Linked DNA regions of Homo sapiens: region 2 is linked to region 1. Evidence: fine-mapped expression QTL. A gene starts in region 1. The other region holds a variant in brackets. All regions are shown on one strand. Distances are from middle to middle.

The links. PIP is the estimated chance that this variant, and not a neighbour inherited with it, causes the effect. A credible set is the group of variants that fine-mapping cannot tell apart.
Region 2: its variant is the best candidate, but not a certain one, in a credible set for the expression of PRRG3 in kidney cortex (GTEx, PIP 0.77).

Annotation. Positions count from the first base shown.
Region 1 is chrX:151,693,380-151,697,896 of GRCh38, reverse strand. PRRG3 (proline rich and Gla domain 3) reads right to left here and starts at 2,439. Exons shown (of 4, transcript NM_001372163.1): 1 at 2,353-2,439.
Region 2 is chrX:151,964,171-151,968,170 of GRCh38, reverse strand. All of the region lies in intron 3 of GABRE (gamma-aminobutyric acid type A receptor subunit epsilon), which reads left to right. Among named protein-coding and RNA genes, the nearest start is that of MIR452, 6.5 kb to the right of the region's middle. The variant G/T (reference allele first, on the strand shown) is at 1,800.

The DNA of each region.
Region 1 (4,517 bases):
TCCTGCTAAGGAGCTATCCAGCCAGTACTTAAACCATGGTCACAGCACACTGCTCCCTCTGTCCCTCCCCACAATACACACGCCCACTCATACACACATTCTAGAGCCCTTGCTGAGCTGTCCACATCTGGGAGCAATCACCCCACTGCTCCCCTCCCCAAGCAGAAGCTCTGGTTTGATGACTAACTGGATGCAAGACACGTGAACTGTGGAATCCATTGAGCCCTCCTTTTTGCCTAGGCTGCCAGGAAGTTCAGCGTCACTATTGCCAGTCAAGCACAGGCACCCTGGAAGCCCAGCTGTTAAGCACATATGCTTCTGTCCTGCGATGTGGTATACAGCTTTCTATTTATGTTTCCAGTGTCCTATTGTGCATTTATAATATGCCACCTAATCCTTTTGGCAAACAGGTAGGATATAAATCAATAATTTAGGCTGGTCGCGGTGGCTCATGCCTATAATCCCAACACTTTGGGAGGCTGAGGCGGGCGGATCACCTCAGGTCAGGAGTTTGGGACTGGCTTGACCAAAAAATGGTGAAACCCCATCTCTACTACAAATACAAAAATTAGTTAGGCATGCTGCGGTGCATGCCTGTAGTCCCAGCTACTCTGGAGGCTGAGACAGGGGAATCGCTTGAACCAGAGAGGCGGAGATTGAAGTGAGCTGAGATTGCGCCACTGCACTCCAGCCTGGGTTACAAAGCCAGAAAGAAAGAAAGAGAGAAAGAGAGAAAGAGAGGGAGAGAGGGAGAGAGGGAGGGAGAGAGGGAGGGAGGGAGGAAGGAAGGGAGGGAGGGAGGAAGGAAGGAAGGAAGGAGAAGGGAAGGGAAGGAGGAAGGAAAGAAGGAGAAGGGAAGGGGAGGGAGGAAGGAAGGAAGAAAGAAAGAAAGAGAGAAAGAAAGAGAGAAAGAGAGAAAAGAAAGAAAAGAAAATTAAAGGTAAAACAGCAGATCTGACATCTATTTGTGGAAACGCCACATCAAGGGGCTTTCTCTTTTGAACCCTGCAACAATCTCCCTCAAAACTATCAACATGTGAATTTGTCAACAGATGGCCTGCCTTGTGAGACAGTTGGCCCTCAATGTTTGTCAGAACCAAGATGGAATATGATCTCAAAATTCTGCTTGCATTATGGATACCTGAGCTTTATGTGGTGAGGGTGTGGATATAGTATGCCTCATGGCAAGGATTTTTTGCTTGAAGAAAAATGGAGCTGTTGTATCTGGGTTTGAGAAGAATGCATATAGTCTTAATAAGGGAAGAGAGAAAAATATGCTTATCAAAGGAAACTGCAGTGGTTTTTTAAAAAAATGGAGAAAAATTTACATAATAGATTACATATATCCATCTTTTGTCCCCCACACACCTAGCCTTGGTCAAAGGTGGCTATATGTCACACCTATCATAGACCCGAATACATGTTATCCTGACGCACCTGCTAAAGTCACCAGTTCATTTTTAAGCTTCAGTCGAGCCAGGAACACCCCCAAAACAGTTCCCATGGCATGGCCCACTCCATTAGCAATTCTGTAGCCACCTTCACTGCTGCTGCTGCCTGCCACGAGGCCTCTTCCCCCTCCCTCCCCAAAATGTAGCGCCTGCTTCTTCCCCTATAAATACACCATCAGTAGACAGTTACTATGGCAACAATAAGGAAGCAATCGTGAGGGCTCCACGACAAAGAATGATGCTGCAGCCACACATGTATATGTCCCCCATGCCCCTGGTGGATACTGTAAAGCTGACTGTAGGCGGAAGGAATTTTTAACCCACTCCCCGCAGGAACACAGCTGAATCCTGACAGCCTGGAAAGGAAGGAAGGCAGGGAACTGGCCACCACAAAGACCTTGCTTAACTCCACCCCAGACTGAAGCTTCTGAATCTCAGGCCTCTGGGACACAACTCCCAAAGTCCCTCACATGAAGCCTGGTGACCACCAGAGCACCTGGTGTCCCAAGACATGGCCTCCAAACCACTTCTCCAAACCCTAGACTTTATTTCCATCCCTCAGAACTGATCGCCAGGAAAGGGTTCTCCAAATCGCATGACTCATCGACCCACCCAGTGACACGACAACTCCCAAATTATGCTCAAACTCAAACTCTGGGGCCCCCTTGTCCCTTTCCACTCAGGCCAGCCCTGAAAGTGCCTGTCCTCGCCCACCTTCGCTGGACACCAGCGCCCTGACCCAGCAACACTCTTCTCCCGGAGCTGTTCAATACGCCCCATCCCCTTGGCCCGGACAGGCCTCTAGATCTTCCCTCCTCAACAATGCCCTGCACCCAGCTCGTTGGCCCTGGATACCGAACCGTGCCCTCGGGACTGGGACACCCAACCCAAATGGCCTCACCGTTCTCCGGGCCCAGAAGGCGGCCGCCCTGTTTGCGCACGCAGCCCGCCACCTCGCTGCTGCGCCTCTTCCAGCAGGGGCCCTGTCCCCGCCCACCTGCTCCCCGTCGGCCAAGCCCCCCGGTCCGGCCCAGCCGTCTCCTCCCTCCCTTCCTCCCCTCCCCGCTGCCCTCCCACCGCCCCGGGCACCCTGTCGCCCGCCCCTCCAGGGCCGAAGTGCGCCTGGAACCCCCGCCCCTCGCAGCCGGGCGCCCAGGCCCGGCCCATTACCTCGGCACCCCCCTGCCTGCCCCTGCTTTCCTCTGGGGGCTCCGCAGCTGCCCGCCCCCCACACCCCGCCGTTCCAGGGCTGGCCTCGCGCCCCGCGCCTCGCGCGCCACGACCGCAGTGCCCCGATCGCCAGGCCGCAATCGTCGCGCTGCCCCGCGCACCGGGCCGCCGGCCGCCTGGCCGAGTGGAGGAAGGAGGGGTGGGGGCGACGGAGTGGGCCGAGGGGGTTGGGAGAGCGGGCGGGCAAGCCGGGCCGGAGGGGCGGCGGCGCGCACCGAGCACCGCGCGCCCGCGCCCCACTCTGCCGGCGCCGCCCCTGCCCCCGCCCGTGCCGCCGGGGGGCGGGGCCTGACTGGCGGGCCTGGGGCACACAGAGGACCCTTGGTCAAAGCCCTGGTCCAGTCGTGACCCAAGGCGTGGGCCCTCGGAAGATACGGCGTAGCAGGGAGCTCCGGCGGCCGCTCCCAAGGCCCGCGCGCCAGGCGTCCCTGCGCAGCCCAACCCGCGTCCTGTCCCCACCCCCCGGGCTCACCTGCCATTCAGGCCCGCCGGGCTCCTGGGGCCAACGAAAAGAGAGGGGGGCTAGCCTGCAACCTAGGCCTGCCTTGCCAGGGATCCACAGGGCCCTCAGAAGAAGGACCGAGTCGAGGCCGCGTTCCGCCAATGACTGGGTGACCTTGGCTTCTTCACTTACCTACCCCCACCCTGCCCCGGGAAGGCAGGCTTCTCTCCTGCAAAGTCCGAGAAATGGGGAGAATTCTGCCTCCCTCGCGAGGCTGCAGCGATTTGAAGGAGGAAATGGGTTTGGAAAACTCTAAGGCTCAGTAAGGGGAGAAGGAATCTTCTGCGACTGCAAGGAGCGCTAGATGGGGGCTCCTTCGGAGGCCGCACTGTGAGAAGTTCAGCATGGCAGGACAAGACGCATAGCAGAGATTACACTAGTCCAGGAGGAACCACATGACAGGTCCACTGCTAAGAGAGGGGCAAAGGGGTTCCGGGTGGGCTGAGGTTCTGGGTCTAGGAAAGCCTCCCTCGGAGAAGGGGATGCTGGGTTTTTAGGGTTCCTTTTTGTTCTCTGCACATCTAGAACCCGGCCAGGCACTGGGGTTGGCGTCCTCTTCCTCCCTCCACCCCAAGTGTTGCTTTTGATGGGAATGAGTCTCAGAAGGCGGTTCCAGAACCACTCCCACCCCTATCCCAGGGCGGGTATTAGCAACCTGCCTTGCCAGGGGGCGGAAGAGGGGTGGGCGAAGGCCTTCATTGCCACCGGCCGCCTCCCCTCCAACCCCCAGGGCCTGGCTCCCCTAGCTCCCCCGATGCCTGCCTCTACACTTCTCTCCCCGCATGGTGCTTTCCCTTCCATTTCTGCCTCCTGTTAGAGTTCTTCCCTAGCTTGCTTGCTATTTCACGGCTGCAGGAATCTTCCTTACCCACGACAGCTCTTCTATGGCCTTCCCCCCATGCCTCCGGAGCCTGTGGGGCAGAATTCCACAGACTCTTCTGGAACTAACCTCTTGAGTTTCCTAGCCCACCAGCATGTTCCCATCGTGATCTTAACACCGCATAGACCCTTGTGCACTTGACTGTTAAAAAAGCAGCTCTTCCAGTATGTGCACAAGGGTCTATGGCTTCTGCCCTCCTTCTGGCACTCCCACTTTAGCTTCTGGCTCCAGCCACATGAGGCTACTTCTACTTCCCACTGCCCAGAATGCCTTTCCTCCCACTGTGGACCTGGAGCACTTGCATTCATTCTTCCCACACAGTGCGCATGACATCTCTACTGTGAGGTCTTGCAGGATCCTTCCTGCACCCCAGTCCGCCATTCCACTCTCAGGACTATCTGCAGAGACTATGAACATGGGGGCCTCGGTGGATAGCAAGGTGGGGGAGGAGGAA
Region 2 (4,000 bases), 270 kb before region 1:
GTCCTCTCTGGCTGTGGTCTGGAGGTCTCCCTCCATCCTTGCCATGTGCACCTATCCACAGGGTAGCTCACAATATGGTAGCTGGCTTCTTTCAGAGTGAGGAAGAGTATGAGAGAAGGTGCTCAAGATGGAAATCACGGACTTTTTATAATCTAATTTTAGGAGTGACATCCCATTGCTTCTGTGGTATTCTCCTCATCAGATGCAAATCATGAGGTCCATCCCAAGTCAAGTGTAATCCCTGTCAAGGGATTACAGAAGGGCACAAACACCAGGAAGTGAAGAGCACTGGAGGACATCTCAAGAGTCTGCCGGCTACACATGGTCATGATGTTCTTCTGTTAGAGCAACTCCTAGAATTGAGTTGCTGAGAACTAACAAGAACAGAAGCATGAGAGCAGATAGATGTTTTTGAGTTTCTGTCTACATTTTAAAATTGGTGGGGTTTTCTTGACTCTTCCCTTGATAATCAGATTTACTTTTTGCTGCTACCAGTGCGTTTACCACTATGAGAATTGTAGTCTCCTTTTAGTCTTGCAATTTACCTTTTAAAAATGGGTATGAATTTAGCAATTAATTTTGCTAGCATTGTTTATAAACTAAGAAGCACTAAGTTCTGTGCAAGAACCAGAGGTTGAGGGCTTGTGGTCCCACCATTGTTGTCACTGTTGACCCTTTCAGGTCATTGGTGTAGGAGTGGGGAAAGTGGCTCACGATGCTATTCTAGCTGGGCAGAGAGCCTCCTACAGCAGTCTCTGCCTATCCTCTTCAGCATGCCAAAAGCCAAATGTAGTGCTCAGTCCACAGTAACCTCATGGCTCCCAGAAATTTGCATAGCTATTTATTTGTTCCTTTCTTCTAGTTCTCTGCTCCTTTGGCTGACTAAGGCACTGCCAACCTGATTTGGAAGTAACCGGTCTAATTTCCACAAGCTGGTTTGCCCCTTCTTTTCTAGCATGTCAATCTCCACCCATTTGGTGGTGGCTAAATTTCCTTAGGTGGAGTGGAGAGAACCACACACTGACAAATGGAGCAGGGGGCGCCAAGATGCTTCGGTTTGCTTTCTGGGTGAGACAGAGCATCCTGTAAAACTGAAGAGTAGTGGAGAATTTGTGACTAAAATCTCCTTGCTGTTTGGGAAGCCAATTTCTATCTACAAGAGCCCTTGTAGCAGAGCAGTAGCCCCACTCACAGTAGCTGAATGCGCTGTCTCTCCTTGCTCCATGGCTATTCATGCTGCCAGCAGTGGCCTCACCTGACAATGCTTGAAGGATATAGTCTAATAACCCAGCAGTCACCAAACCTAGCATGGAACACAGGACTGGTTCAGAAAAGAGACAGCAACTTTATTTTCTTTGGCCAGTAAGGTGGCACTTTAGCCTGAGCCAAGTGTCTTTTGAAAATTCCAAACCCTCACATGTGGTGTTAAATTTTCCTGAAATGCCTTGCCTTCTACATGGTTCCAAATAGTTCTTTAAAGCTGTGGGAGGTCCCTGTTCTGTGGTGTACTTGGTAAGGAGGGGACACACGTCTCTGCCACATAGTCACAGAACATACCAGTACCCAGTACATTCTTGTCTCCTTGGATCCTCATGACAGCCTGCATGGAAGCCAAAGCTGCCGTTAGGATATGGATCCCTGTTTTACATTTGAGGAAGCTGAGACTTCTCAGAAATGTGAGTCCCAGCATTGGGTACATAGTTGGTGTAGTTGCTTGAGGGGAGTTTCAACACCTTTCAGTCAGATGTTGTTTAGAAAGCAGGCCTTGTCCTCCGGGAAGGAAACCTGAGTGCACAGTT[G/T]TGTAACACCCAGTCTGAGATTAAAAGGCAATGAACAATCTGGGAATCGCTGCCCATCATAGCATCGATAGTTGCTAACGCTTTTTCTTGCTGTGGTAATTATCGCAGTTGATTCTAGTTCCAAAACACTGAATTTCTAGAGTTTCGGCTGAGCTAAAAGGGATGTACATCGCAAGCTCCTTTGTCAAACTGGGGAAAAAGTGAACTGTTAGTTATCGGTTGATATGTAATGAACTTACAGTTGTCGAATAGAAATTAAATGCTTATTTGAAACACTTCATAACATAGAGCATAAACACAGTGTGAGTGCAGAGGGCAAGGCTTCCCACTGGCTACCAAGCAGTTCACGAGGCCTGGGAATGAAGGAGGCTCTGCTGGCCAAGTTTAGACTGCCAGCCACTTGGGACAGTAGAAACACTTGGAAGACATTTGTGGAGGCAGGTGGGGCAGGTCGGGGTCAGAGGCTCTCATTCAAATGGGAGCCAGGCTCTGCCAGCTCTTTTCTGTCTGCTTCTCTGGCCTACTCCAGGGAACATTCTCAGTCTTCCCTTCCATGGCTGGCCCCCAGCAGTTTGGTGGCTGCTTTTACAATCTTTTGTCCTGGCCAGCAAAGGCAATCAGGGATTTTCTTGATTTCTTCCCCGAGGGCTGTGCCCGCCTCCATGGTTGTGGGTATTCATTGTTTGATGCACAAGAAGTCAGCGGAAAGACCTAGGGATTCTGCAGAGAAAATTGGACCTTGGTACCTAAAGAGATTGTTGGTGCAAGTGAAAGCCATCCCAGGGCCAGGCTGCCATTGACTATTTGTGTGACTTTGGATAGCCCCCTTTCTCATAAAGCCTTAGTTTCCTTATCTCTAAAATAACTCAGAGTTCTGCCTTGGCCTGCTTGTGGTACTTGCTGTTCGAGCTGCTTGGAGTTCTATTGCAGTAGGGTTTTTTTCTCCCTTCACCACCAGTGGTGCACATTTCTAGCTTCTTCCTATTCAATATCATTGTTGATGTTTAACAGACATTTTATGGGACAGACAATATCTGGAGACCAAATAATCACGGATATATCTATGCACACGAACACACACATTCAGAGGTTACAGGTGCTTATTTGAAAGGAAAAACAAAATAAGCAAAATAAAAAAAGATTCTCCTTGTTTAAAAAACATGAGACTAAATAGAGGTTTCTCTTGTGACTCAAAACACTCCTTTCCCCCCCAGCTCCCCTGAGATGGAGTCTCGCTCCATCACCCAGGCTGGAGTGGAGTGGCACGATCTTTGCTCACGTCAACCTCCGCCTCCCGTGTTCGAGCCATTCTCCTGCCTCAGCCTCCTGAGTAGCTGGGATTACAGATGCCTGCCACCATGCATGGCTAATTTTTGTATTTTTAGTAGAGATGGGGTTTCACCACGTTGGCCAGGCTGGTCTTCAACTCCTGACTTCGTGATCCGCCCTCCCAGAAGGCTGTAAAACCTCCCAGAAGGTTTTAAGGAAGCATAAAAACAACTGGATAGTTGTGGTGACACACAAACCTTAAACATGTGCCTCCCAAAGTGCCGGGACTACATGCTTGAGTCATGGCGCCTGGCCTCCAAAACACTTCATTTTTATTATAATTCTGGAGAATGAAGGATTGGGGTTAATTAACACTGGTGCTCCCCAAATAAAAGCTGAAAGGGGAAACTCCACTGTATGCAATCAATGGTGTGTGTGCTTGTAAATTTTTAAAACAATTTTGAGCTGGGATCTTTGATTTACTATGGAAATGTGGGGACTGAGAGGGTGTTGACCTGGCTGGAGTAGCATCACAGCCTACACAGGAGCAATAAGATGAAGAGCCCAGCCCATGGAATTAAGCCACCATCGCCTGTCTGTTTCTAGATGAAATGTATCCTCTGAGACTGTGATCTAGTTGGGAATTATATTTTATTTTGGAACACCTGGAAATAGAAAACTCCTACAGCCAAACTCATGCCACCTTCCTCTGTACAAACCTAAGTGGATTCCAAAGGGTCCATCTACTTGATAAGCCCATCACAGAATAGCATGGAACCTTTGCCCACTGGTAAAGGGAGGGTGTCAATGTCAGCTCTGGAAACAGGGCAGTTGTTTTGAGGAGGAGGGCACTTACAAATTATTTATAGTCTCCCATTTAACAAAGAGGATAACAGAGAAAGATACGAGTTTTAGCCAAGGTCACAAGAACA